Linked DNA regions of Homo sapiens. The protein of the gene in region 3 purifies or fractionates together with the protein of the main gene of each other region. This does not show direct contact. Each region holds a gene or a part of one and is shown on either strand. Other genes may lie near its edges.

What was found.
Region 1: the proteins of DLD (region 3) and DLAT purify together in Homo sapiens (affinity purification with mass spectrometry; 6 studies listed by BioGRID and IntAct, with this or other methods). This does not show direct contact.
Region 2: the proteins of DLD (region 3) and KGD4 purify together in Homo sapiens (affinity purification with mass spectrometry; 4 studies listed by BioGRID and IntAct, with this or other methods). This does not show direct contact.
Region 4: the proteins of DLD (region 3) and NFS1 purify together in Homo sapiens (affinity purification with mass spectrometry; 3 studies listed by BioGRID and IntAct, with this or other methods). This does not show direct contact.

Annotation. Positions count from the first base shown.
Region 1 is NC_000011.10:112,021,389-112,028,428, reverse strand, and holds the start of DLAT (dihydrolipoyllysine-residue acetyltransferase component of pyruvate dehydrogenase complex, mitochondrial isoform 2 precursor), read right to left. Parts: upstream 3,022-7,040; 5' UTR 2,957-3,021; coding exon 2,678-2,956; intron 2,232-2,677; coding exon 2,130-2,231; intron 1-2,129.
Region 2 is NC_000005.10:69,213,053-69,220,771, reverse strand, and holds the start of KGD4 (alpha-ketoglutarate dehydrogenase component 4), read right to left. Parts: upstream 3,013-7,719; 5' UTR 2,943-3,012; coding exon 2,901-2,942; intron 1-2,900. UniProt on the Homo sapiens protein: Molecular adapter that is necessary to form a stable 2-oxoglutarate dehydrogenase enzyme complex (OGDHC). Enables the specific recruitment of E3 subunit to E2 subunit in the 2-oxoglutarate dehydrogenase complex (OGDHC).
Region 3 is NC_000007.14:107,887,101-107,894,203, reverse strand, and holds the start of DLD (dihydrolipoyl dehydrogenase, mitochondrial isoform 1 precursor), read right to left. Parts: upstream 3,022-7,103; 5' UTR 2,954-3,021; coding exon 2,915-2,953; intron 1,005-2,914; coding exon 926-1,004; intron 1-925. UniProt on the Homo sapiens protein: Lipoamide dehydrogenase is a component of the glycine cleavage system as well as an E3 component of three alpha-ketoacid dehydrogenase complexes (pyruvate-, alpha-ketoglutarate-, and branched-chain amino acid-dehydrogenase complex).
Region 4 is NC_000020.11:35,668,353-35,675,375, forward strand, and holds part of NFS1 (cysteine desulfurase isoform a precursor), read right to left. Parts: intron 6,851-7,023; coding exon 6,693-6,850; intron 6,266-6,692; coding exon 6,160-6,265; intron 6,080-6,159; coding exon 5,998-6,079; intron 5,333-5,997; coding exon 5,249-5,332; intron 4,493-5,248; coding exon 4,403-4,492; intron 1,334-4,402; coding exon 1,270-1,333; 3' UTR 1-1,269.

The DNA.
Region 1 (7,040 bases), on a different chromosome or scaffold from region 3:
TTTTTTTTGAGACACAGAGTCTCATTCTGTCACCAAGGCTGGAGTGCAGTGGTGCAATCTCGGCTCATTGCAACCTCCCCCTCCCAGGTTCAAGCGATTATCCTGCCTCAGCCTCCCGAGTAGCTGGGATTACAGGAACAGGCTGCCATGCCCGGCTGATTTTTGTATTTTTAGCAGAGACGGGGTTTCACCATGTTGGCCAGCCTGGCCTTTGTGTCTAGAATTATACAGTTCATGTGAAGATAAGGCCACTACGACAGATTTCAAAGAAGAAATTACTTTAGAAACGCCTTGGTTAAAATCAGTTTGGCCAGCTGCTGACAACTTATCCAACCAATCTTGTCTAACATCAAGTTGTGAAAAACACTTCAGTTTCTTAAACAAAGGGGTAGCTACACATCCAGAAAGTCAATGTTCAGTCAATTAGGCAAAGCCAGTCTCTTCGAACTCATCTCCGTTACTTTAAAACAACTTACCCTCTCCCTCTCCCTCTCCGTCTCCCTCTCCCTCTCCCCACGGTCTCCCTCTCCCTCTCTTTCCACGGTCTCCCTCTGATGCTGAGCCGAAGCTGGACTGTACTGCTGCCTTCTCGGCTCACTGCAACCTCCCTGCCTGATTCTCCTGCCTCAGCCTGCTGAGTGCCTGCGATTGCAGGCACGCGCCGCCACGCCTGACTGGTTTTCGTATTTTTTTGGTGGAGACGGGGTTTCGCTGTGTTGGCCGGGCTGGTCTCCAGCTCCTAACCGCGAGTGATCCGCCAGCCTTGGCCTCCCGAGGTGCCGGGATTGCAGACGGAGTCTGGTTCACTCAGTGCTCAATGGTGCCCAGGCTGGAGTGCAGTGGCGTGATCTCGGCTCGCTACAACCTCCACCTCCCAGCCGCCTGCCTTGGCCTCCCAAAGTGCCGAGATTGCAGCCTCTGCCCGGCTGCCACCCCGTCTGGGAAGTGAGGAGCGTCTCTGCCTGGCCGCCCATCGTCTGGGACGTGAGGAGCCCCACTGCCTGGCTGCCCAGTCTGGAAAGTGAGGAGCGTCTCTGCCCGGCTGCCATCCCATCTAGGAAGTGAGGAGCGCCTCTGCCCGGCCGCCCATCGTCTGAGATGTGGGGAGCGCCTCTGCCCCGCCGCCCCGTCTGGGATGTGAGGAGCGCCTCTACCCGGCCGCGACCCCGTCCGGGAGGTGAGGAGCGTCTCTTCCCGGCCGCCCCGTCTGAGAAGTGAAGAGACCCTCCGCCTGGCAACCGCCCCGTCTGAGAAGTGAGGAGCCCCTCCGCCCGGCAGCCACCCCGTCTGAGAAGTGAGGAGCCCCTCCGCCCGGCAGCCACCCCGTCTGGGAAGTGAGGAGCGTCTCCGCCCGGCAGCCACCCCGTCCGGGAGGGAGGTGGGGGTCAGCCCCCGCCAGGCCAGCCGCCCCGTCTGGGAGGGAGGTGGTGGGGCCAGCCCCCCGCCCAGCCAGCCGCCCCGTCCGGGAGGGAAGTGGGGGGGTCAGCCCCCGCCTGGCCAGCTGCCCCGCCCGGGAGGTGAGGGGCGCCTCTGCCCAGCCGCCCCTACTGGGAAGTGAGGAGCCCCTCTGCCCGGCCACCACCCTGTCTGGGAGGTGTACCCAACAGCTCATTGAGAACGGGCCATGATGACAATGGCGGTTTTGTGGAATAGAAAGGGGGGAAAGGTGGGGAAAAGATTGAGAAATCGGATGGTTGCCGTGTCTGTGTAGAAAGAGGTAGACATGGGAGACTTTTCATTTTGCTCGGTACTAAGAAAAATTCTTATCCTGTTGATCTGTGACCTTACCCCCAACCCTGTGCTCTCTGAAACATGTGCTGTGTCCACTCAGGGTTAAATGGATTAAGGGCAGTGCAAGATGTGCTTTGTTAAACAGATGCTTGAAGGCAGCATGCTCCTTAAGAGTCATCACCACTCCCTAATCTCAAGTACCCAGGGACACAAACACTGCGGAAGGCCGCAGGATCCTCTGCCTAGGAAAACCAGAGACCTTTGTTCACTTGTTTATCTGCTGACCTTCCCTCCACTATTGTCCTATGACCCTGCCAAATCCCCCTCTGCGAGAAACACCCAAGAATGATCAATAAAAAAAATAAATAAATTAATTAAAAAAAAAAAAAAAAACTTACCTCTGCAATTAGGTCACCTTCATTGATTTTGTCCCCCTCTTTTTTTTCCCAACGGGCTATGGTGCCTGCCTGCATTGTGGGGGAAAGAGAAGGCAATGGAACCTGGAAAAGGAAAAGAAGAAACATTAAAATTTTTAAGGACTACCTAACTCTCAGTCTGGCTTAAGATTTCATTCAATTCAATTTCATGCAAAGTGTATACAGTTCCATTGCACATTGGGAACTAGGGATGCCAAGGGAGTTCCTGTCCATGAGAAGTTAGTAATTTCCAGTGACAGGCTTTCTCCTCCACAGTCCTGTGGGTCTGACAAAGCATGAACCTCGGCAGATATTCTGCATACAGCCCCAGTCTTGAAGCTCTCCTTTCAATGAAATAGATCATGAGAGGGACACTAAGGAGCTACAGCAAAGCCAACTATTGGACAAAGGGCCAAAGCAGATACTGGGAATGGGTGGAGGATCAGTGAGGCCTCTCAAGGAGGATCTTGCAGGCATCCAGTCAGCTCTGAAGGACAACGGGGTCCCGAGAAGGGGGGTCTAGGGCTCACCTTCTGATGCGGGGGAAGACTGTAATAGCGGCGGCCGGGCGACCCCAAAAGCTGCAGCAGTAAGCGGTTCCGCGGCGTGGCCCCAGAACTGGGGGTCCAGCCGCACAGTGCCCGGACCCCGCCATACCCTGTAGTCACGCTGTTGCGACGAGCGGGAGCCGGGCCAGATCGCGAGGTCACTCGTGGAGTTCCGGGTACCTCCTGCAAGGCCGTCCACCGAGCCTCGAGTCCCGCCCATGGGGCTACATTCTGAGCCCGTCGCGCACAGACGCGCCACATAGTGCCACCAACCCCCCACACCCCAAAACCAACGCCGTCTCCGGAGTGACCTCTCCAAGAGCAGCGGCGTTGCCGTCAGCCACACCGCACAGCCGCACGTTGTCGTAAAATGGTTCCCGCAGGTTTACTCCACCCGCTCCCCAGGCCAGAAATGCGCGGCACGCACGCTCTTTCTCTACGGAGCGGGGACGAGGGGCACTACGGGGCAGGAGTGTTCCAGAGGGGCCTGTGCGGGCGCAAGTTTGGGAGAAATAACAGACGGAAAGGGGTGGAAAGTGGTAGGGTTCTAGGGGAGGCATCCGAAAGGGTGAGACGGGGCCTAAGAGATGACAAGGGCACGACCGAGGGGGAGGGGCCTAAAAAGGCGCAGAGACGCGGGTTAATTGCGGCCGAGTGGCCTGAGAGTCTGGGCCGAGGGGCGTGGCCAAGCTTTCTGGAAAAGCTGGAAGTGAGCCCGGGAACTGGCTAGGGCAGTGGGAGCCTCAGGCCAAAGGGCGGGGGTCTTGGAGTGCTGGGGTGGTGAAGGAGCCAGGAATCGCCCGCGAGGGAATCGAGGGGTCCGGCGTGGTGACCTCTGCTTCTGCGCATCCGAAGGGGGATGGACTGGGCCGCGCCCCGCGCAGGCTGTACTGGTTGCAAAGATTTCGTTTCAGGTTTGTAGCCCAAGTGGAAAGTGGAGTGAACAGGTGTTCCACCCAGCCAAGTGGTAACGAAAGGCAGCCCAGAGGAAGATACATTCCCGCATTCATGTATACTGTAGCAAGATTAAGCATATTCCCTGTATGAAGATATAGGTTTACAAAACAGGTGTTGCTCCCTAATACCATAGAATTCTTTTAAGTAACCAAAAGCTTCGTTATGTTTCAAATGTTTGAAAAACTTAACTGTAAGCCGTTGAAGGCATGAAGAGTGTCTGCGTGGTCCTTCCATGTAGCCCCAGAGCTTAATATCCAGTAAATAGCGGGGGCTGAATGTATGTCTTTTGAATCAATGAATAAAAAGTCATCTACACATTTTGTTAGGCACGCTTCTCTTGTAAAGTTGTCTTTTAATTAGAAAACATATCGTTTCTGAACTGAAGGTGACATTAGATAAGGAGGAAGCATGTGCTGTGTATCACCACCTCCCCCCTGTAGAGATGGTTAGAGAACACCAAGAACGCAAGAGGAAGTTGGAGGGAAGAAACTTAAAACAAGATTTTAGCCAGGAGCGGTGGTGCATGCCTGTAGTCCCAGCAATGCTTGAGAGGCTGAGGTGGGGGAATCACTTGAGCCCAAGAGTTTGAGACCAGCCTGGGCAACATAATGAGACTCCCATCTGTTAAAAAAAAAAAAAAATGGGGGCTAATCTTGCTAACAATTAATTTGGAAAACTAAAACAGATTGGATGTACTATTTCATGCCTACTTAAATTGGAATGTTTAAGCAGGTACAGCTGTCTATCAGAATAATATGTAAGCAATATAATTGAGAAATATAAAATTTCTAGATTGAATGAAAAGGCATATTTTAAATAATATGAAGAGAGCAATTATATTGTTACAATTATGTACAACTTATGAATTAACAATTGGAAGAAGCAATGAAAGAATAATTGTAATTACTGAAAGGACTTATTACTATTATTTGGGGATGGAGTCTCACTCTGTCGCCCAGGCTGGAGTGCAGTGGCATGATCCCGGCTCACTGCAACCTCCACCTCCCAGGTTCAAGCGATTCTCCTGCCTCAGCCTCCCGAGTGCTGGGATTACAGGCACGTGCCACCATGCCCAGCTAATTTTGTGTTTTTAGTAGATACGGGGTTTCACCATGTTAGTCATGCTGGTCTCAAACTCCTGACTTCAGGTGATCCACCTGCCTCGGCCTCCCAAAGTGCTGAGATTACAGGCGCGAGCCACCATGCCCGCCCAGGACTTATAAATTATTATAAAAATGTTTTTGAGTTGGCTAAAATATCTTGCTGCTTTTGCTGCATTTGAACTTAATAACTGGATCTAAATTAGACTTTGGTATAAAGTATGAGGTGATCTTCCGGATCTGTTGTGCACTTAGGTATGCTTGCTTAAACCCTGTTTTGCATTTTTCAAAGAATAGCGAGTTTGTGTCTTGAATATACTTTTGACTTAAGTGTAGTTAAATTATAGGAATGCATAGCTCAAACAGTCCAGAGATGGCGAGCTTACCCCAGAGGTGGGCTAGGAATGCTTAGGTTTCTCAAATCAGTCCTGAGAGAACAAGCTTGAATTCCACTAAACAGACTGGATAAAGGAAATTATGGAAAAGGAGACTCAAGACTCAAAGGTTTGAAATAGAGATACTTAAGAGAATGGTGATATCACTGATATTGAGAGAAACAGAAATTAGTTGGTAGTGAAAGATTTTGAGTTATGTACATATTTAATTTTAACATAATGGGATAGCCAATTAATAGTTGAAAATACGTAATTGGAAGTCAAATGAAGGCACTCAGGGATAAAGAATTTAATATAGCAAACATTTAAGATGAATTGATAAGAGGCATTTAAGAGGCAGCTTTCAAATGATCTGGGAATTCTGGTCATTTTAAATACACATTTCTGAAAGAGTTCTTAATGCTTGCATACTGACTTTTGTCATAGAGTTTATACTCTTGGGTTCTTATTTGTTTGCATGTTTACATATAATTTCAAAATAAGTGCTAAATAAATTGTCCTTGATAATAGCCTATGTGCTTACATAGAAATACTAATTGTAAAATATCTGTAGCAATAAAGTAATTCTTATCTCCACTCCACATAGTGAGTAAACATGCTACCAGGGAGATCACTTGAGGAAATTTGCTTTCACTAAATGTAAATGGCTTTATTGATTAATCTCATCAGTAAACGCAAGTGAAAATCATTAATGATATTTAGTTTGCAAACCCCATTTTATTCATAGTTTGTGGTTTTTTAAATTAGTTCACAAATCTGGTACATACCGGCAGTTAAAACTGGTTATCACTTTGATAATCAGAAGCCTCTGGTGTAACATAGTCTTCATGAAAACATATTGTAAAACAGGGAGAATACACAGTAATAATCTCTTTGAAAGCAATGGCTGTAAACATCCATGTTTCTAAGAAAATATAACTTTACATATATATGTATTTTAAGCAAGCTATACCTCTTACATAAATTCAGACAGTAGAAGGAGTGTGCAATCATAATGCTTATTTTATGGAAACAGTGAAAATAATTTTAATTATGACCTAAATGCTTTTAAGTAATTAAAGTCCTCTTGAATTGGATGTATAGTATAAAGATATTTTCCCTAATTTGCAACCATCCTGGTCAAAAAGAGCTGAAAAGTTGGTCAGTAAGTAGAAGTGCCATTACCAAGTAAGTTTAAAACAAATTCTTCAAATTTAAAAATGTAAAAATTGTAAAGTATCCCAATCCCCCCAGCTAATTTAGGGAACTGAGCAAGAAGAGAACATTCTTCAGTTTTTAAATGACTTTTTTTTTTTTTTTTTTGGAGATGGGGTCCTGCTCTGTAGCCTAGGCTAGAGTGCAGTGGCATGATCAGCTCACTGCAACCTCAAACTCCTGGGCTCAAGCAATCTTCCCACCTCAACCTCCTGAGTAGCTGGGACTACAGGTGTGTGCCACCATCCCCAGCTACTTTTATAATAAAATTTCTATGTAGAGACGGAGTCTTCCTACGTTGCCCAGGCTGGTCTTGAACTCCTGGGCTCAAGCAGTCTTCCTGCCTCGGCCTCCCAAAGTGCTGGAATTACAGGCATGAGCCACCACACTCAGCCTTAAATGAAGATTTTGTAAGGAATTGAGCATTCAACTAAACTCGTTTTTGTGAGATGGTCATTTTGTTTTAACCTAACATGGTTTAGAGATTATTTTATGAACTCTAAGCATTCTGGTTCCTCAGTTTTCTCAAAGAAAGAGAACTTTAGCAAGTAGCAGGACAAGCTACCCCACACCAATGCCACCAGGCGACAATACTATGAATAAGTCAGGAGGCCTCCTAGAATGCAGCCAAATAGGAAACTGTTCCAAACAGAATCAGTCTTGCATACTTCTGCTCAGAAGGCTCCTCTCGCTTTGGAA
Region 2 (7,719 bases), on a different chromosome or scaffold from region 3:
CTCTTTCTTTTCCCCACATTTCCCCCTTTTCTTTTCGACAAAACCGCCATCGTCATCATGGCCCGTTCTCGATGGTTGCTGTCTCTTCAGAGCTGTTGGGTACACCTGCAGAAAGGCTGTCACTTCACACTTGGAAGATTGCACTGCGGCCAGGCAGAGGCGCTCCTCACTTCCCAGACGGGGTGGCGGCCGGGCAGAGGCGCTCCTCACATCCCAGACGGGGCGGCCGGGCAGAGGCGCTCCTCACTTCCCAGACGGGGCGGCTGCCTGGCTAATTTTTATAGAGATGGGGTCTTGCTATGTTGCCTAGGCTAATCTTGAACTCCTGGCTCAAGCAATCTTCCCACCTTGGCTTTCCAAAGTGTTGGGAGTACAGGTGTGAGCCACCGTGCCCAGCTGGCTTTGTCTTTACTTAATGTTCTGAGACCACGCTTTGTGACTTCCTATCAGTTTGTACCAATCAGTCTTTTGGCACTCTTCTCTTCCTTCAAGATATGGATCAACAACCAAATTCTAAGCTCTATGTTTTTTTGTTTTTTTTTTTTGAGTCAGGGTCTAGCTCTACTGTCCAGGCTGGAATGCAGTGGCATGATTATGGCTCACTGTAGCCTTGATCACCCAGGCTCAATCTTCCCACCTCAGCCTCCTGAGTAGCTGGGACCACAGGTGCACATCACCATGCTCAGCTAATTTTTTAAAATTTTTATAGAGATGGGGTCTTGCTATTTTGCCCAGGCTGGTCTTGAACTCCTGGGCTCAAGCCATCCTCCTGCCTCAAACTACCAAAGTGTTGGGATTACAGGCATACATCAGTGAGCCTGGCCTAAACTCTAACTGGCACTGTAGTCCTAGCTTTATAGGCCTGTCACAGAGATACTCAACAAATTTTGCTAATGTTATATGTAATTATTACATAATATTAGCACATACTTTATTATTTATTTTTCGAGACCAGGTCTTGCTCTGTTACACAGGCTGGGGTGCAGTGGGGTGATTGTGGTTCACTGCAGCGTCAAACTCCTAGGCTCAAGTGATATTATATTAGCATATTGGTTGTATTCTCTCTTTTTTTCTTTTTTTTTAAGAGCGCAATCACGAACCTGATTTGAATTCTAAATAGGTGAGTACAGGTCTTTGTTCCTATGTTAGAAGGGCACAGACCATTCCTTACTGTATATCTCACAGTTTCTTCATTTGTTTGCACACATCAGCTGTTAGTATTGCTTTGGACTGTACTATTTTAACAAACTACCACAATTTGTTTATGCAAAAGACAGACATAGAGATTGTTTGTGGTTTGGGGGCTATCAGAAATAGAGCCAGGGACCCCATGGCAGTATATATAGTACCTGCCTGCTGAGATGCCACACTCCTGCTGCCAGGCTGGAACCCCTCAGCTCTGGACCCCAGTTCTTTGCTAGTAACTCTTTTTTTTCTGTGAACATTTACGTACAGAGACAGTATGTGCATTCACTTCTCTTGGGCAATAAACCTATGAGTAGAATTGCTGGGTCATACGGTAGATACATGCTTAACTATTAGAGACTGACAGCTTTCCAAAGTGGCTATAACATTTTATATTCCCACCAGCAATATTGAGGGTTTCAGACGCTTCACATTCTCATCACCACTGACGTCTAAATTTTAGTCATTTTGGTGGATGTGTAGGACCTCATGGTTTTAATTTTTATTTTCCTGGCAAGTAATGATATTGAGCACCTTTTAAAATGTTCATTGCTCATTTGGGTATCTTTTGTGCAACACGCCAAGTCTTTTACCCATTTTTAAATTGTTATATATTATTGATACATATGGTTATATATTATGGATAACAGACCTTTGTCAGTCTCTCAGTCCTTACAGAATCTTTAACTAGTTGATGCTCAGTAACTACCTACTGAATAAGTAAGGATCATTCATTGCAATGGGACCAAAGACTGGGATCTAGGATTATCATTCAGACAACAATTTCAGGAATTTAGAAAAAGGTCTTTTAAGAGATGTACTTATATAAAGCGGAATGTACTTCTCATATCAAAGATAAAAGTCAATTATAAAATAATATAGTTTCAGGGTTCAAAGACTATGTAAACCAACCACAAAAGTGGAGGTTGTGTTCCACTTATATAATAATTTTACCTAAGTTAGAACCACAGCTGAAGAAACAAATAAAAAGGCTATCAGGAGTTAGTAGCTGATAGGTGGATTAACAAAGTTACTTTAGCTGTCTATCTAAACCAGGGGAAAATAGGCTTGTGAAACCAACGCTTATACACACACACACACACACACACACACACATTAATATACACACACACATACTAATTAAACTTAAGTTTACTTTTCTATTTCCCTCATCTGGCCTGTAGCCAGACGCTTGGAGAGGTTGGGGAGAACCCGCTCCGGCGAGGACGCAGTACGCGGGGCCAGTTGCCCGACCATTCCCGAGACCTTGAAGGGACAGTGGGTCAGATCCAGGGTTCGCTTCCTTCCACGCCCCGCTACCGCCTTCCTTCCGATTGGCTGATCGGGGGCACCACAGCCAATCCTAGACGGCGATTGGCCAGGCTACCGCCAGGGTCGCCTCACCCGCACACGCCTAAGACTAACAAGGTCCTGGCGGAGGAGCGGGGGATCCCGGCAGTAGGTACAGGACCTACCTGCCAAGATGCTGCACGGTTGCCGCAAGGCTCGAACCCTCGGCGCCGGACCCACCTCACTGCCCGGTCCAACAGGCTCAAAGTCCCATCCTCACACACACCCGCGGGCGCCGTCACTGGCCCTCCGCAGAGGCGCGGTCACCGCTCTGCCTCTGCCACCGCCTTTACTCCCCGACGCCGTCGCCATAGTCAGCACCGTCCCTACCGCCCAAGATGCGGAAACGCGACAAATTGCTTTACCTGAACGACCCTACTAGCAGACGCCATCTTGCTGCCCATCATGACCCCCGAGAAGGGGCAGTTTCCGGGGCGCGAGCGAGCCGCGGCGATCACTGGAGTCCCGGGCAGCTGTGGGCGGTGCTTCCCGGGACGTCACGGAGGCGGAGACCGGACTGGGCTCTCCTCCGCCGTGGGGCTGGCTCCGCCCCCTGTGCCTGACCCCGCCCACCCCTTCTCCCTACTAGGATCCACCCACGTGTGTTCTATTGTTTCGTTTTGGGGACAAAATTTTGTTAAGGTGGGTCTCTGCTCATTAGCCTATAAATTGTCTAGGACCATTTCCTTTCCAGAAAGCCAGTCTATAATTTCGATATAGTTCAAAATTTTATCTGGAACCAAATAAATAATACAACCTTCTTATCTGACAGCTCTTGCAAAGATTAAAAAAATTAAAGAAAAACAAAAAAAAAACCTTGCGGTTTCCTAAAATGAATAATTTCGTTAAAATGGGAGTTAGTGGCAAGCTCACAAGAGTTTACTCTGGCTTAAAAAGGGCCATGTCACACTCTCTTGCTGATTGGCATTGCTTGATTGTAATTTGTTTCTGTTTTCTTTACCGTTTATTACTCCTGATATCGAACTGCTGGGCCTTTGCTTCAAGTTGAGATAACTCAAAAATTCAGAAATATTTGAAATGTAAGCCACTCATATCTTTCCCCCAAAATTACATTACGGGCGGGGCGCTATGGCTCACGCCTGTAATGCCAGCACTTTGGGAGGCTGAGGCGGGCGGATCACTTGAGGTCAGGAGTTCGACACCAGACTGGCCAACATTGTAAAACCCTGTCTCTACTAAAAATACAAAAATTAGCCGGGCGTGGTGGCGGGCGCCTGTAGTCCCAGCTACTCAGGAGGTGAGGCAGGAGAATTGCTTGAACCCAGAAGGCAGAGGTTGCAGTAAGCCGAGAGTGTGCCACTGCACTCCGGCCTGAGCGACAGAGGGAGACTCCGTCTCAAAAAAAAAAAAAGTTACATTACGTTCTGTGATAATGCTTAGGTTATATATAGTATTGTAAGCTTGACCAATGTGTTTGATGATATACATCAGTGATTTCTAAGTCTTGGGATCTTTTTAGAAATATAAATTACTGAACCCAGGTATGGTCTATTGGGATTCAGTGACTACAGAGAGGCCATTAACCCGTTTTGTTTTGTTTTGTTTTTGTGGTTTTTTTTTTTTTTTTTGAGACGGAGTCTCGCTCTGTTGCCCAGCCTGGAGTGCTGTGGCGTGATCTCAGGTCACTGCAACCTTTGCCTCCTGGATTCAAGCAATTCTCCAGCCTCAGCCTCCCCAGTAGCTGGGATTACAGACGCCCGCCACCACGCCTGGCTAATTTTTGTATTTTTGGTAGAGACAGAGTTTCACCATATTGGCCAGACTAATCTCCAACTCCTGGCCTCAAGTGATCCACCCACCTCAGCCTCCCTAAGTGCTGGTATTACAGGCGTGAGCCACTGCGCCTGGCCCCATTTTAATTATTTTCAAATGTGCAGTTCAGTCACATTAAGTACATTCACATTGTTGGGCAATTGTTACCATCTTCAGAAACTGTACCCATTAAACAAAAACTTATTCCTCCTTCCCTCAGCCTCTGACAACTATCATTTTACTTTCTGTCTATGAATTTGACTACTGTGGGTACTTAATGTACGTGGAGCCATAACAGTATTTGTCCTTTTGTAATTAGCTTGTTTCACTTAGCATGTCTTCAGAGTTCATTCATGTTGTAGAATGTGTCAGAATTTCTTTTTTAAGGCTGAAAAAATCCCATTATATGTGTATACCACATTTTGCTTATCCATTCATCTGTGGTAATTCTTTTTTTTTTTGAGACAGAGTCTTGCTCTGTCACCCAGGCTGGAGTGCAGTGGTGCCAACTCGGCTCACTGCAAGCTCCGCCTCCCTGGTTCACACCATTCTCCCACCTCAGCCTCCCAGGTAGCTGGGACTACAGGCACCCGCCACCACACCAGGCTAATTTTTTTTGTATTTTTAGTAGAGACAGGGTTTCACTGTGTTAGCCAGGATAGTCTCCATCTCCTGACCTCGTGATCTGCCCGCCTCAGCCTCCCAAAGTGCTGGGATTACAGGTGTGAGCCACCGTGCCCAGCCGATAATTTTTTTTTTTTTTTGAGACAGAGTCTCGCTGTGACACCCAGGCTGGATGCAGTGGCATGATCTCAGCTCAATGCAACCTCTGCCTCCTGGGTTCAACTGATTCTCCTGCCTCATCCTCCTGAGTGGCTGGGATTACAGGTGCCCACCACCACGCCCAGCTAATTTTTGTATTTTTAGTAGAGACAGGGTTTCTCCGTGTTGGCCAGAATGATCTCAAACTCCTGACCTCAGGTGATCCGCCCACCTTGGCCTCCCAAAGTGCTGGGATTACAGGTGTGAGCCACCGCACCTGGCCCAGTTCAATGCTTTTTAGAAAATTTTCATTTGAGACTCCTTTGACCTATGCCTCATTTAAAAGTGTGTTCAGTTTCCAAGTATTTGGAAATTTTCCTGTTATCTGACTGTTACTGATTCCTCATTTGATTCCCTTGTAGTCAGAACACAGTCTGTATAATTTCAATTCTTTTATATTTGTTGATATTTTGTCATCCAGGATATGGTCTATGTTGTTTATGTTCTGTAAGCACTTGAAAAGAGTGTTCTGCTGTTGTTTGGTGGAGTATTCTATAAATGTTGATTAGCTCCTCTGTTAGTCCATGTGTGCTACTGTAACAAAATACCTTAGTATGGGTAATTTATAACCACAGAAATTTATTTCTCATGTTCAGGAGGCTCAAAAGTCTAAGATCAAAGTACCAGCAGTTTCGGTGTTTTGTGAGGGCTCAGTCTTTTCTTCCAAGATGGTGCTTTGAACACTGCTTCATCCGAGGGGTTTAACACTGTGTGCTCACATGGCAGAAGGGCAGAAGAGAAGGAACCCATTCCCTCAAACTTTTTTTTTTTTTTTTTTTGAGACAGTCTTGTTCTGTCACCCAGGCTGGAGTGCAGTGGCACAATCTCGGCTCACTGCAACCTCCATCTCCTGGGTTCAAGCGATTCTCCTGTTGCAGCCTCCCAAGTAGCTGGGATTACAGGCGCCCTCTACCACACCCAGCTAATTTTTGTATTTTTAGTAGAGATGGGGTTTTGCCATGTTGGACAGGCTGGCTTTGAACTCCTGACCTCAGGTGATCGGCCCACTTTGGCCGCCCAAAATGCTGGGATTACAGGTGTGAGCCATTGTGCCTGGCCCTCAAACCTTTTTTTAAGGGCCTTAATCTCATCCATGATGGTTCTGTACTCATGATTTAATCATTTCCAATACCTTTTCGTATTGTCACATTAGCAATTTTCAATAGATGAATTTTGAAGGACACAGTCAGACCATAGCTTACCGCCTTTGGCCCCCCAAATTTATGTCCTACTCACATGCAAAATACATTTATCGGACGCTTGTTGCTCACACCTGTAATCCCAGCACTTTGGGAGGCTGAGGCAGACGGATCACTTGAGGTCACGAATTCCAGGCCAGCCTGGCCAACACGGTGAAACCCTGTCTCTACTAAAAATAAAAAAAATTAGCTGAGCGTGGTGGTGTATGCCTATAATCCCAGCTACTTGGAAGCCGAGGCATGAGAATTGCTTGAACCTGGGAGGCGGAAGTTGTTCACAGTGAGCCAAGATCGTACCACTGCACTTCAGCCTGGGGGACAAAGGGAAACACTGTCTCAAAAGACAAACAAAAAAAACCCAAAAATACATTTATCCATCCCAGTAGCCCCAAAAGTCTCAACTCATTCCAGCACCAACTCAAAACTATAAAGTCCAGAGTCTCACCTAAATCAGATATGGATGAGACTCAAGGCCATGACTCATCCTGAGGCAACTTCTCCTGCAGCTGTGAGCCTGTGAAATCAAATACATGTGCTTCCAAAACACAATGATGGGTCAGGAACAGGACTGACATTCCCATTCCAAGAGGGAGAAATAGGCAAGAAGAAAGGAGTAATAGGTCCCAAGTAAGTTAAAAACCCAAAAGGCCAACAACATTAACTCTTGAAGCTTGAGAATAATTCTTGACTCAGTATCTTGCCTTCAGGATGCATTGGGCTGGGGGTTGGACCCCCAAAGCCCCGGGGCAGCCCTACCCCATGGTTTTGATGGGCACAGTTCCAACCCAGCAGCTCTCAGCAGTTGAAGAGAGGTACCTGGGCTCTCTCAGGCAAGTATTGCATGCTGATGGCTCTACAGGTCTGGAGTCTGCCCTCCATACAGGGGTGGCCCTGCCATACAGCTCTGTAACAGCCTTTTATTGTTAGCCTTAGATAGCAGACAACTACCACTGAGGTTTTTTGAGATGGAGTCTCGCTGTCACCCAGGCTGGAGTGCAGTGGCACGATCTCGGCTCACTGCAAGCTCCGCCTCCCGGATTCACGCCATTCTCCTGCCTCAGCCTCTGGAGTAGCTGGTACTACAGGCGCCCGCCACCACACCCAGCTAATTTTTTGTATTTTTAGTACAGACAAGGTTTCACCGTATTAGCCAGGATGGTCTCAATCTCCAGACCTCATGATCTGCCTGCCTCAGCCTCCCAAAAGTGCTGGGATTATAGGCGTGAGCCACCGCACCCAGTTTTTGTTTTTGTTTTGAGACAGGGTCTCTGTCACCCAGGCTGGAGCACACTGGCACCATTATAGCTCATTGCAGCCTCAAACTCCCCAGTTCAAGCAGTTCTTCTGCCCCAGCCTCCTGAGCAGCTGGGACTACAGGCACATACCACCA
Region 3 (7,103 bases):
AATATCCTTGGTACTGACAGGTCAAAATACTTCAATATAATCCTATTAACTTTCTGTTTTAAATACTTAAAAAAATAAAATGCATATCCTTTATGGGAACTTCAAAAATATAAAAAAAGTACACAGGAGAAAATTCCATGACCCATAGCTTCCTTTTAGATCCTGCTAATCTTTAAAACATGCTTTTGATAAACCCATGAAGACTTTCATTCAGGATGTCAAGAAAGTCATCTCATCATTCTAAACAGTGTTAAAATAACCAATACAACCTTACTCAACGGACAAAATTAACTTTTTAAATGTAAACATATGAAATTGCTGCCCTGCTCAAAACCTTTGTTTCCCATCATACTTGGAGTATAATCCAAACTACTAGACCTGCCTTACAAGGCACTCCATGATCTGTCTCCTGCCTACCTCTCCGACTTTACATTGCATGGGTTTCTGCTCCAGTCATACCAGCCTTCTTATTACTCCTTAAACTTCACAAGCTAAGTCCCACCTCAGGCCTTTCTCAGTGTTGTTTCCCTCTGCCTGAAGTAACCTCACTCCCCCACTTCACTCAGGACCCTGCCCAGACATCATCTCCTCAGAAAGGCCTTTCCTGACACTGTATCTAAAATTATCTCTCTTCCTCCCTATTACCTGCTTTAATTTTCAGTTACTTCCCAAAATATTTATCCATTACTTATATATTGTTTGTCTTTTATCACCAAATTACAAGTTTCATAAGAGCAGGGTTTTTTTACCTTGTTCACCGCCTGGAACACACTAGCTCAATATACATTCAAACGAATAAATACATGAACAAATGAACTATAAGACACTTAACATAAGTTATTCCAATATTCACTTGCTTTTACATTGAAATAGAAAGGAACTGTCAGCTAATGTGATGAAAAAAATGTTTTACTTAAGTACTTACTCGGCTGATCTGCGTAAGTTCTCAGAGGCACTGCAGAAAGTCCCTGTAGGCCATGAGATATTCGATTGAAATGGCCTCTCTAGAAAAAGAAAATGTCCCTATTATGTAAGATATGAATTCAAAACATAGAACTACTGAAGGTTGATGATAACAGAACAATTTTGGGCAAACGTATCAAGCGAGGATTATTAGTGTATCTTCTTCCATTGCCACACAGAAGCTACAGATCAATATCCCCTCTTTGACAATAACTAATCATTTAAATTTTTCAGCCTCAGCTTGCCACACCCATCTTTTTATTATCAATAGTCAACAAATCATCTCATATTTAACTTAATTTTAAAAACGTATTCAATGGTATTTTTATTCAATTTTCAGAAAACATGGCTAATTATTAGTGCCAGGGATCATTTTAATGTCATAAAGCTCTGAGCCGGCCGTGGTGGCTCACGCCTGTAATGCCAACACTTTGGGAGGCTGAGGTGGGCGGATCACCTGAGGTCAGGAGTTCGAGACCAGCCTGGCCAACATAGTGAAGCCCCGACTCTACTAAAAATACAAGAAAATTAGCCGGGTGTAGTGGTGGGTGCCTGTAATCCCAGCTACTCGGGAGGCCAAGGCAGGAGAATCACTTGAACCCGGGAGGCGGAAGTTGCAGTCAGCTGAGATAGTGCCATTGCACTCTAGCCTGGATGTCAGAGTGAGACTCCGTCTCAAAATAAATAAATAAATAAATAAATAAATAAAGCTCTGAAAGTTCTAACTTAAATACTTGAATAATCTATACATGATAATCTTTTTACCTGTAATTTTTGTTTCCTAACTCTAAGCTAGCGTGTATATACAGTCCGTATTTACTTAGAACAATCTATGAAGATGTTCCTGAGACATCAACTAGGAATAGCAAATTAGACAAGGTAACTTAGGAAAATGCACCAAGTAATGTACTTACGTTCTGGTGCTACTACAGTTTGACAAATTGCATCATAATCTCCCTAATCTCTATATGTGGACGGCTACCATTTCCTAAGGGCAATGAGGCAGAAAGCAAGCAAGCAAATAACCCCTGCTCACAGCAGGAAAATGGGCGGCAGTGACAAAACCTACACTGATGTTTCCTATTCCAAGGCAACTCTTAACATTTGAGGTCAGGACAGCAAACCCAAAAAGCAGCAGATTGACAATCCTGAGTTTCAGTCCCACCTCCGCCGCTCCCTAAAAGCATGACTTGCAGAATGTTACATTAACTTTTGAGAACTCAGGTTCCTCATCTCTGAAACAAAAGGGTTTGATCGCTATATTATTTTTAAGGTCTCCACTAACATAGTACCCAGCCACGGTGCCACATACACACAATTTGGCTGTATCTGGTAAGCAGATTAAAAAGGAGAGTTGTTCTGATAACCTGCTGCAATTAAAGATTTAAGCCTCCAGGAAGTCGTGAGAGATGGCAATGAACACCAGTTGAAAGCTGCCAACACTGACAAGACCTTAGGGGAATTCCGAGGGCTATCTGTTGGAGCTGACTGGATCTAAACCATTCAAGAAGTGACCCCAGGGTTACCTGCCCACTGCATAAACTTAGGCCACTCAGGGATCAGAATTAGGATGAGAAAAAGGCAAATGGTATAAAAAGCCAGACTATACGGGACATGGGTGGCTTACACTTCCTCCAAGGTAGAGGCCTATGTGTGACCGGGATGGCCCTCGGCCCAGGCTTGGGGGTGTGGCATGTGTGACCGCCGGCCGTCACACAACCCGAAAGGACTCGCCACAGCCTGGGCCCAGCCCCGTCCCTCGCCTGCTGCAGGATGAGCGGCCACCTCGGAGCCCAGGGCCGGGCTGAGCCAGTGCAGAGGCGGGGCCAGGGGTGGTGCGGCCCAGGCGCCCGCCTCCGCCAGCCCAACACGGTTAAGCCGCGTACCGGACCCACTGAGCGGGACCTTCCGTGCCTCTGGCTCAACACGACCTCACCTACTCGGCCCTCACCTTGGCCAAGGAGCAGTACACACGACTCCAGCTCTGCATTTTTCCGCTGTATTTTCCTTTCCGCCAATACTTTCACCTCCGCTGGGCGCCTCCGCCGCTCCGCCAAGGTCTCCCCTCCCTGCGCATGCACAGGCGCAGCCTACGTCATCACCCGGGAGCAGCGCGATTGGCCCGCGCGGTTCTACCGCACGAGGCGTTCCTGTCAGGCTCGGCGTCGTACGCTGTCGTAAGGAGCGCAGGGCTTTGTCGCAGCGGGGGTGGTGGTGGGAATGCTTTAGGGGCTGGTGCCAAAATGTCGAGCTACAATGTATTCTTATACTTAGAAGATGAAATAAACAAATAAAACTAGCGTTTGCTTAATGCACATTATCGACAGTAAAGCGTGACAAGTTCAACAAGCTCTTGGTTGTGCTAGGCATTCCTCGGCACTTCCTACAGACATCTCATTTCATCCTTGCAACAACCATATGGAGTATTATTAGTATTTCCATTTCTTGGATGAGACCCAGAGAGGTTAAACAGTGCCCCCAAGGTCTCACAAAGGAGAGATAACTGCGGCCCTGAGGCCAAAACCTTTGGTATTATCTACTGCTTTATACTCGCTCCTCTCAAATGCCATATAAGGGATGGGGCTACAGATTTTGGCATCACCAGCATTCTGCTCTAATTAGCTAACTGACAATACGTAGAGAACACACTTTCTTCTATTTCTTTAGTTGAGAAACACATCTCCCTGGTAAAAAGAGAGTGGGATGGTGGATGAGATTTTAGGTTTTGAGAGAGAATCTGTTGAAAAGGGTTGAAAAACATTGTCTTCAAGATTGAGCACGAAAGTCTAAGGTCTCATTCTTGCCTTGCAATAAGTCTATATAGTGTGAATAAACTTAATTCTACATTTATTGGAAGTCTACCACCCAGGCCTTGTGCTGGGCTAAACACTGGTTAGAAATTACTGCCTATGTTCAGATTTAGATATGAATAATTAAATTTAGTGTTTGTTATAGAGACGGTATTGCTGGCAGCTCTGTCCTGTGACAGGGTCCCAGGCTCCTTTTATCTCGTGACTCTGCCATCATCAGAGCTTGCCTTGCATCTTTCATTCAAGATGGCTGCTCCAGTTTCTACAATCATATCCCCTCATTCCATCTGATTACAAAGCCACACCTAGCTGCAAGGGGATCTGTGAAACATAGTCCTGTCAGCTGAGTGCCTAACTGAAATTGTATTAATAAGCAAGATGAGATGAAGCGAAATTGGGGGACATTGAGCAGCCTCCACCACACAGATGGGGAGAATTGTCTCCTCTCCAGCTTCATGGCAGTCTTTGACATCTGGTCTAGGAGTTACTGCTCCATATGCACAAAATCTCACAATTCTTTCCTGAACTTTCTTGGGCTTTGTTCCCTACTCCTTTGTCCAAAATTACAATATCATATTTTTATTTTTAAAAAATGAAACACTTCCATCCTTTCCAGCTGTCATTCACAAAGCCTAGGGGCTCAACCCAGTATGAGAAGTGAGGCAGGAAATAGATTCCTTACTGCACTCACCATATTTCTCCACATTCCTCCTCATCTCTTGTACCAACTATACCTCTTCTCCTCTCAGCTAGAACAAAAGCCACAACGCATATAAATTAATGCGAACACACGGGAGGTGGAGGGAGCGATGTCAACAATGGACAGCCCACACTAGCAGTGTTTATATTCCAGCTAAGGAATATAACCAGAAATTGGACCACACTTATTTTGCTAACTTGATTTTTTTCACTTAAAACTATCTCATGAGCAACTTTCCATATTCATATTGTGTCCAGAATTGGTGGGTTCTTGGTCTCACTGACTTCAAGAATGAAGCTGCGGACCCTCGCAGTGAGTGTTACAGTTCTTAAAGGCGGCGTGTCCGGAGTTTGTTCCTTCTGACGTTTGGATGTGTTCGGACTTTCTTCCTTCTGGTGGGTTCGTGGTCTCGCTAGATCAGGAGTGAAGCTGCAGACCTTTGCGGTGAGCGTTACAGCTCTTAAGGCAGCGCGTCTGGAGTTGTTCATTCCTCCTGGTGGGTTTGTGGTCTCACTGGCTTCAGGAGTGAAGCTGCAAACCTTCGCTGTGTTACAGCTCATAAAGGCAGTGTGGACCCAAAGAGTGAGCAGCAGCAAGATTTATTGCAAAGAGTGAAAGAACAAAGCTTCCACGCTGTGGAACGGGACCCAAGCGGGTTGCCACTGCTGGCTCAGGCAGCCTGCTTTTATTATCTGGCCCCACCCACATTCTGCTGATTGGTCCATTTTACAGAGAGCTGATTGGTCTGTTTTACAGAGAGCTGATTGGTCCATTTTGACAGGGTGCTGATTGGTGCGTTTACAATGGCTGAGCTAGACACAAAAGTTCTCCAAGTCCCCGCTAGATTAGCTAGATACAGAGTGTCGATTGGTGTATTTTCAAACTCTGAGCTAGACACAGAGTGCTGATTGGTGCATTTACAAACCTTGAGCTAGATACAGAGTGACGATTGGTGCATTCACAATCCCTTAGCTAGACGTAAAGATTCTCCAATTCCCCACCAGATTAGCTAGACACAGAGTGCTAATTGGTGCATTTACAAACCTTGAGCTAGACACAGAGTGCCGATTGGTGCATTCACAATCCCTTAGCTAGACATAAAGATTCTCCAAGTCCCCACCAGATTAGCTAGATAAAGAGTGCCGATTGGTGCATCCACAAACCCTGAGCTACACACAGGGTGCTGATTGGTGTGTTTACAAACCTTGAGCTAGATACAGAGTGCCGATTGGTGTATTCACAATCCCTTAGCTAGACATAAAGATTCCCCAAGTCCCCGCCACATTAGCTAGATACAGAGTGCCAATTGGTGCATCCACAAACCCTGAGCTAGACACAGGGTGCTGATTGGTGTGTTCACAAGCCTTGAGCAAGACACAGAGTGCTGATTGGTGCACTCACAATCCCTTAGCTAGACACAAAGGTTCTCCAAGTCCCCACTAGACTCAGGAGCCCAGCTGGCTTCACCCAGTGGATCCTGCGCTGGGGCGGCAGGCGGAGCTGCCCGCCAGTCCCGCTGTGTGCCCGCACTCCTCAGCCCTTGGGCGCCAGTGGGCCAGCACTGCTGGGGGACCTGGCGCACCCTCTGCAGCTGCTGGCCTGGGTGCTAAGCCCCTCACTGCCCGGGGCAAGTGGGGCCGGCCAGCCGCTGCGAGTGCAGGGCCCACCAAGCCCACGCCCACCCGGAACTCTAGCTGGCCCGCAAGCGCTGCACGAAGCCCCAGTTCCCACCCGCGCCTCTCCCTCCACACCTCCCCGCAAGCAGAGGGAGCCGGCTCCAGCCTTGGCCAGCCCAGAAAGGGACTCCCACAGTGCAGCAGCAGGCTGAAGGGCTCCTCAAGCGTGGCCAGAGTGGGCACCAAGGCCGAGGGGGCGCCGAGAGGGAGCCAGGGCTGCAAGGGCTGCCAGCACGCTGTCACCTCTCAATATTAGCCTACTTCTAATGACTACTGAGTATTTTGGGACATACCCTAATTTATTCAACTATATTTTATTATTAGATATGTAAGCCATTACCAATTTTTCAATATCGTGATTAGCTTATCACTAAGTCTTTGCACACATTCTTTATCATTTCCTTGCAGTAAATTCCCAGAAGTGGAATTGCTAGGTCAAAGACAAAGCATATTTTAAAGATTTATATTGTCTCTCACTTATTTTATTTTATTTTATTTTTTGACGGAACCTTGCTCTGTCACCAAGCTGGAGTGCAGTGGCTCGATCTCAGCTCACTGCAACCTCTGCCTCCCAGGTTCAAGTGATTCACCTGCCTCAGCCTCCCAAGTAGCTGGGATTACAGGTGCCCGCCACCACGCCTGGCTAATTTTTGTATTTTAGTAGAGACAGGGTTTCACCATGTTGGCCAGGATGGTCTCCATCTCCTGACCTCGTGATCCACCCGCCTCGGCCTCCGAAAGTGCTGGGATTACAGGTGTGAGCCACCGCACCCAGCCCACTTATTTTAATTCTTAACAGTGGTTACCTTAAATGAATCAGAAGTTCTAACTGGCAGTTTAAGGGGTTCATTAAACCCCTTAATTTAAGTGGGTTAATGGAGATGAGTTATTCATTATACATGCAATAAGTCAGGCAATCAAAATATTTGAAAAGCATGGTTTTTCAAAACACTT
Region 4 (7,023 bases), on a different chromosome or scaffold from region 3:
TATCATCAAAATATATTCTTAAAATATGCATAAATGTACTCTAACATACTATCTCCTTTTTTAAGTACTGGTAACTACCCACCTATGGGTTCAGACCCACAAATGAAAAGCTCTAGTTACAATGGCCTTCTCTTGGTTTCTAAAGTATAATACTTTGTGCTTTATCACACTTCAGGCCCTTAGCTCTTGCCATTCCTTCTCACCTCTCATTTCTAGATTAGCGAGCTCTTCATATTTATAAGCACTACCTCCTCAGAAAAACTTTCCTCAAACACCCAGCATGGTAGGTTTTCCCTGCTATGTCCTCTTACCACTTAATTCTTTCATAGCACTTATCACAATCTATAACATTGTTTATTTGTTTAATTATTTTCCATCTCTCCACTAAAATTTAAAACTCAGTGAGGGCAGGGTCTTTTTTGGTCCTGTTAACCAGTGTATTCCTAATACCCAGAACAAATCTGGCTCCTGGCAGGCATTCAAATAATTCTTAAATGAAGAGATACAAAAGCCCACTGAGTCATTTATGCAAATCAGATGGAGTGGCGGTCTTCTCCACAATTCCCAAGTACAGCTTCCACTTTTCCCTCAACCTCTCATAAAGTCACAGAGTAAATAGAAGGTGAGTTTATTTCTCCAGTCTTGAAATTAACAATTTTCAAGAAAACAAATTATTAGAATAACTGGTGGAGTCACAGACATATTTCTAGCTCCATTAGGTCAAAGGAAAGGAAAGAGGACAAGGGTAGAAAGGAGACAAGCCCTCTAAGAAACTGTCCATTCAGTCTGTCTGCAGTCAATATGAAGAGATAGCCTTTGGAGCTACAGAAAATATTACATTGAAGTGGATTATGCTTGCTGTTAAAGAAGCTGGTCCAGCCGAGCAGCAGCAGAAGACGAAGACTCAAATGTCCATGTAGAGCATCATGGTCCCTGACCAAAGAGACTTCTTCTGGTTCCTCTTGCTCTCCTCACCAAGAGCACAGATGTGCCCAGCAGCAATATGACAGCAAATGTCTCTATGGCTTCGGGATGAAAATGTCCACACACTTTAAGACCCGAGAAGAAATGGGGAGTGCTCCACACCCAAGGAACTGAAGCTAGGGAAAGACAGTTTTCTTGTGTTTCTGTCATAGAGGTGGACTGATGCTGAAGTCAACTGGTCTATACCAATCTAGAGCATCCACTAGGTGTAACAAGGTGTCTGGTTGTGCACGGGTTGGTGAGGCAGGAGGGGCCAGACCAGCACAAAGTCAGGGCCCTATTCTTCTAGTGTTGGGTCCACTTGATGCTCTTGAGGTCAATGCCATCCTGAACCATCTCCCAGAGAGGGCTGCCAAAGAGAAGAGGCATTAAATGAGTGAGGGCTTAGATAGGAAGTCGACAACATTGGCCCCAAGGCTCTGAGCAATGGCTTGCCTCCTTCTGTCCCTGTCTGTCCTCTGCCTCTTGCCCTGGTAGACCCTAACACAGGTGGTTAAGGTATCCTGAGCTCTCCAGCTCCCTGTAAGTCCTTGTCAGCTCTCCTGAGAGCTCTCCCCAACTGCTAACAGGAATAACTAGGTTCCTCAGGCTCAATTGCAGTGGGGCCCTGAGCCAATGGACACCAAACATGGTCATATTCTTGAAGCTTTCATCCCACTGGTAAGAGGCTATGGCCATGGTTTCCCTTGGAGGAACCAAGACCCTTGAGACTTGTATAAACATCTAGTTTAAGCCTCTCTTCATATGACATGTATAAGCAGCTCGTTTCAGCCCACCACATATTACCCGCTTTTCAGCATTTGTTTCTTGGTTTTGTTCTAGTTCCCAGTTAGGGGTGGAACTTAACCCTACATCATCTTGGTATGCTGTACCCTTACCCAGTTCTTGCCCGTTTCATCTCCCCAGAGTTGGCCTGTGCTTCCAATATCCCTGGGTCTAATCCAAAAGAATTCCTTGGATCTTAGACCTGAGCATCCCATCTCACACAAGAGCTGCTGCTAAGAAATCTCTGCTAAGCTCTGATCGATCCCCAAGCAGAAGCTTGGATATCTTGGATAATGTTCCCAGACCAGATATTACTTCAGTGTGCTATGAATATGGGATTTTACAGTTTAGATTTCACCAGGTAATTTTATCAAATTTCATTATATTCTTGACTTGTCCCTCTTCTATATACTAAACATTCCCAGAATGCCTTTCTATTCATGAGATTTTCCATGGCCCTTAAAGTTAGCCATCTCCTTCCTGTCCTTCCTCTTTAGGGAAGACCACTTATTATTATAGGCTCACAAAATAAGACTCTGAGAGCTAATAGGACCAGGCTGCATTCAGTTTGTAAAGGGTCAGAAGGAATAGGGTGCAGATGCCGAAGCCACATAGATAGGAAACAAAAGGCTTTGCTGGCCACGTGGTCAGTAGAAATGCCTTGTGAGTATACCACAGAATACCAGAAAGTGAGGACAAAGGAAGGGTCCTGCAGTTGAGCAAGCTATAGACACTTAAGCAATACAGCTAGACCCTACAAAGAAAAATCCAGAACACAGAAAGGCCTGGGAGAGCTCATAAAGGGAAGCAGAGTATATACCTGAAATTCCTCTCTCTACCAACTAGATCAAGAGAATCCTGAAAGTCAAGGTTAACCAAGACAGAGCCAGGCTCTGAAAAAATCTAGAGGCCTCAAGGTTCCAGGAGGAAGATGAGCTCTGTGGCTACTAGGGGAAGCCCTGGTGCCAGCTGACTGGCCAAGGATCTCATTACCTTTATAAACACATTGATTGATTGATTGAGACAGAGTCTTGCTCTGTCGCCCAGGCTGGAGAGCAGTGGTGCGATCTCAGCTCACTGCAAGCTCTGCCTCCTGGGTTCACGCCATTCTCCTGCCTCAGCCTCCCAAGTAACTGGGACTACAGGTGCCCACCATGCCAGGCTAATTTTTTTGTATTCTTAGTAGAGACGGGGTTTCATTGTGTTAGCCAGGATGGTCTTGATCTCCTGACCTCATGATCCGCTCACCTCGGCCTCCCGAAGTGCTGGGATTACAGGCGTGAGCCACCGTGCCCAGCCACAGAAAATATATTTTTAAAATTAGCTAGGTGTGGGGGCACACAGCTGTAGTCCTAGCTACTTGGGAGTCTGAAGCAGGAGGATAACTTGAGCCCAAGAGTCCAAAGTTACAGTGAACTACAACTGTGCCACTGCACTCCAGCCTGGGTGACAGAATGAGACACTTTCTCTAAAGATAATAATAATCATAATGAACAATACTACCTGGGCCAGGTGCGGTGGCTTGTGCCTGTAATCCCAGCACTTTGGGAGGCCAAGACAGGAGGACTGCTTGAGCCCGGGAGTTTGAGACCAGCCTGGGCAACATAGCAAAACTCCGTCTCTACAAAAAATACAAAAACTAACCAGGCATAGTGGCACATGCCTGTAGTACCAGCTACTTGGGAGGCTGAGGTGGGAGGATCACTTGAGCTTGGGAGGCACAAGTTGCAGTGAGGTGTGATTGTGCCACTGCACTCCAGCCTGAATAACAGAGCAAGAACTTGTCTCCAAAAAAAAAAAAAAAACTACTACCTGCATTACCTGCATTCATCTAGTTCTTTAGTTTGTTGTTTTTGTTTTTGTTTTTGTTTTCTTGAGACGGAGTCTCACTCTGTCACCCAGGCTGGAGTGCAGTGGTGTGATCTCGGCTCACTGCAAGCTCCACCTCCCAGGTTCACGCCATTCTCCTGCCTCACCTCCCGAGTAGCTGGGACTACAGGTGCCCGCCACCACGCCCAGCTAATTTTTTTGTATTTTTAGGAGAGACGGGGTTTCAACGTGTTAGCCAGGATGGTCTCGATCTCCTGACCTTGTGATCCACCCACCTCAGCCTCCCAGAGTGCTGGGATTACAGGTGTGAGCCACTGTGCCCGGCTTTTTTTTTTGGGACGGAGTTTGGCTCTTGTTGCTCAGGCTGCAATGCAATGGTACAATCTTGGCTCAACGCAACCTCCCCCTCCCAGGTTGAAGTGATTCTCCTGCCTCAGTCTCCCAAGTAGCTGGGATTATAGGGATGCGCCACCACTCCCGGCTAATTTTTTTGTATTTTAGTAGAGACGGGGTTTCTCCATGTTGGTCAGGCTGGTCTCGAACTTCTGACCTCAGGTGATCTGTCCGCCTCGGCTTCCCAAAGTGCTAGGATTACAGGCATGGGCCACCCTGCCCGGCCTAGTTCTTTAGTTTTTAAAAACACTTTCTCATTGTGAAGACAAGTAGCCAAGAAGATCTACTTTCTTGCTTTGTGGAATCTCTAAATCCTAAGATCCAAGTACGCTTGAACTTTGGTTTTGGCAGTGTAAACACATAGCCTAAGGACAAGAGGGGAGACAGTGCTAGAGTTTCTTCCAAAGCGTCTCTGATACAATATGTATACCTCATTTCTCGAAGACGCTTCACATGCTGAATGCATTTCTCCACTGTGTAGTCCACTTCCTCCTCTGTAGTGAAGCGGCCAATTCCAAACCTGAAAAAAGGCACAGGAGAATGGCTCCCCATCAGAGCTCTGGCACTGGGATAAATTCATTCCGCAAATACTCACTAAGGATCTACGACACAAAAGATATGGAGAGAAGAACATGGTCCTTCCCCTTTAGGCAGAGTTTCTCAGAACATGGTATATGGATCGGCCGGGCATGGTGGCTCACGCCTGTAATTCCAACAGTTTGGGAGGCCAAGGTGGACAGATCACATGAGGTTGGGAGTTCGAGACCAGCCTGGCCAACATGGTGAAACCCCGTCTCTACTAAAAATATAAAAATTAGCTGGGCCTGGTGGCACATGTCTGTAATCCCAGCTACTCAGGAGGCTGAGGCAGGAGAATTGCTTGAACCTGCAAGTCAGAGGCTTCAGTGAGCTGAGATCATGCCACTGCACTCCAGCCTGGGCGACAGAGTAAGACTCTGTCTCAGAAAAAAAAAAAAGAACATGATCTACGGACCACCAACATTAAAATCACCTGAGATGTTTTCTACTCCTCCTCCGGACCTAGTGAATCAGAATATCTGAATGTGGGACTCAGATATCATATTTCACAAACTTCCCAGGTGATACTCAATGAAGTCTGAGAACCACTGCTCTAGAAACTTTCACAAGGTTATGAGAAGAGATAAGGAGAACTCGACTGAGAAAAACTTCAGGGTGGAAAAAGAAAAAAACTGTAACAGGAGATGAAAAATATAAGAGGATGCCTTTCATAAATGTTGCAGCTCAACTCACTGACCTGATAGAAGAGTGCGCTAAATCCTCATCAGTGCCAATTGCTCTAAGCACATAAGAGGGCTCCAGGGATGCAGAGGTGCAGGCACTGAGGAGAGAGACACGAACCTTGTTCAGTTCATCATCAACGTCTACTTTTAGTCACAAACCCTCAGTCTTGTTCCCATCCCCCAGGGCCCTGGAGTCATACCCTGGAGAAAACAAGAGACCTTCTAATCTGGCAGAACTAAAGGACCTGATGCTCCCCTGCACATCCTAGGATGTGTGAACCTAGCTCCTCTGGCCCCCATGGTGGATGACTTCCTTAAGCAAGGACGCTGGCAAAGTGTGACAGAGCATGATACCACATGGGTTTGACAAGAAGACGCAGCAGAGGACCATGTGCTCACTTCCCCAGGACGTAATGCACCATCTGCACCAGCCTGAAGGGCAGCCAAACACTTAGTGGCCTTTGGAGCATCTTCAATTCTAGAGGCCTGTAACAGAACTGCTAGTGTAACCCACAACAGACACATACATCCCCTGGGACGATAAAAGGCACAAAATTCTACCCCAGGAAGTCTTCCTAGGGTGGTAAACTTCAGTCTGTACCCAGCTACCCAGCCAACCAAAAAAAGAGAGGCACTTACAAAATGACCTTTACCCTTAATCAAGAGGTCTTGTGCCTATCATCTCCACACTGGGAAGTTTAATAGCCTGTATGACTCTTCTAAGTGGCCCTGCCGCAGGCCCTGTCTATGCCGTCCAGCTCACCTCCCTGAGGATAAGGCAACGTCCTTCAGTGCCATCAGCAGACTTTCCCCTTCCACATATGCAAAGGAGAGGTTGATACAGCCTGGAGGAAAGAAATACTGTGAGAGAGGTCTCAGAGTCTCAGCCTCTACCAGAATGAGGATAGAAAGAGCAAGTCCATACCGGGATAATGGTGCTTAGGGTCCCCATTCATCACCACATCTGGAAGGCTCTTCATTATATTCTGTATCAGCCGCTCTGACAACTTTGAGATTCGCTTGTGGTCATACTAAGGAGCAGGCAAGGAAGGATTAGGCAGTAACCATTAACCAGCTCAGAAAGACAGTTTGAGAAGCCCTTCTCCTATAACTGGAAGTGACTATGTATCAGCCCCACCTATCATCCTATGTACTCATGGGGACCACTGTATCTCCAGTACTGAGCATAGTGCCTGGTATGCAAAAGGCGCTTGATAACTGGACACAGGGTTCATTTACTTATCCAGAAATAAATGAGCTGATAACTACTAAAAGGCCATGGGTTTTGAAGCCCATAATGTCTCCCTCAGAACAAGGTGCCAGCAGCACCAGGACAAGGAAGAGTTTTCTTAAGCCCTCTCTCCCTGCAGAGATCTGCCTCAGTCATGCTGAGAAGCCTCTAAATAGGAGACCCAGCACAGGGGAAGAAGTTGTGGGAGGGAACTGCTCTCCCCATACCTCCATCTCTTGCTGTGCCACCTCACACGCAGCCCCCAGCCCCACCACTAAGGGTGTGGGCACTGTCCCAGACCGCATACCCCGCTCCTGCCCCCCTCCACTCTGCAGGGCCTCCACACGCACACGGGGCCGGCGACGGATGTAGATGGCACCAACCCCTGGGAAACAAAATTTGTTACAAAAAACAGAAAGAGAGAAAAGTAGATAAAACAAAATATTTCTTTCCAAAGGGATCAAAATATTACTTCAACTTTTCTGTAAGCATGAAATTTTTCTAAATAAAAAACGTTAAGGAAAAGAAGAAACAGCAGTAAAAGCATAGTATTTAGTA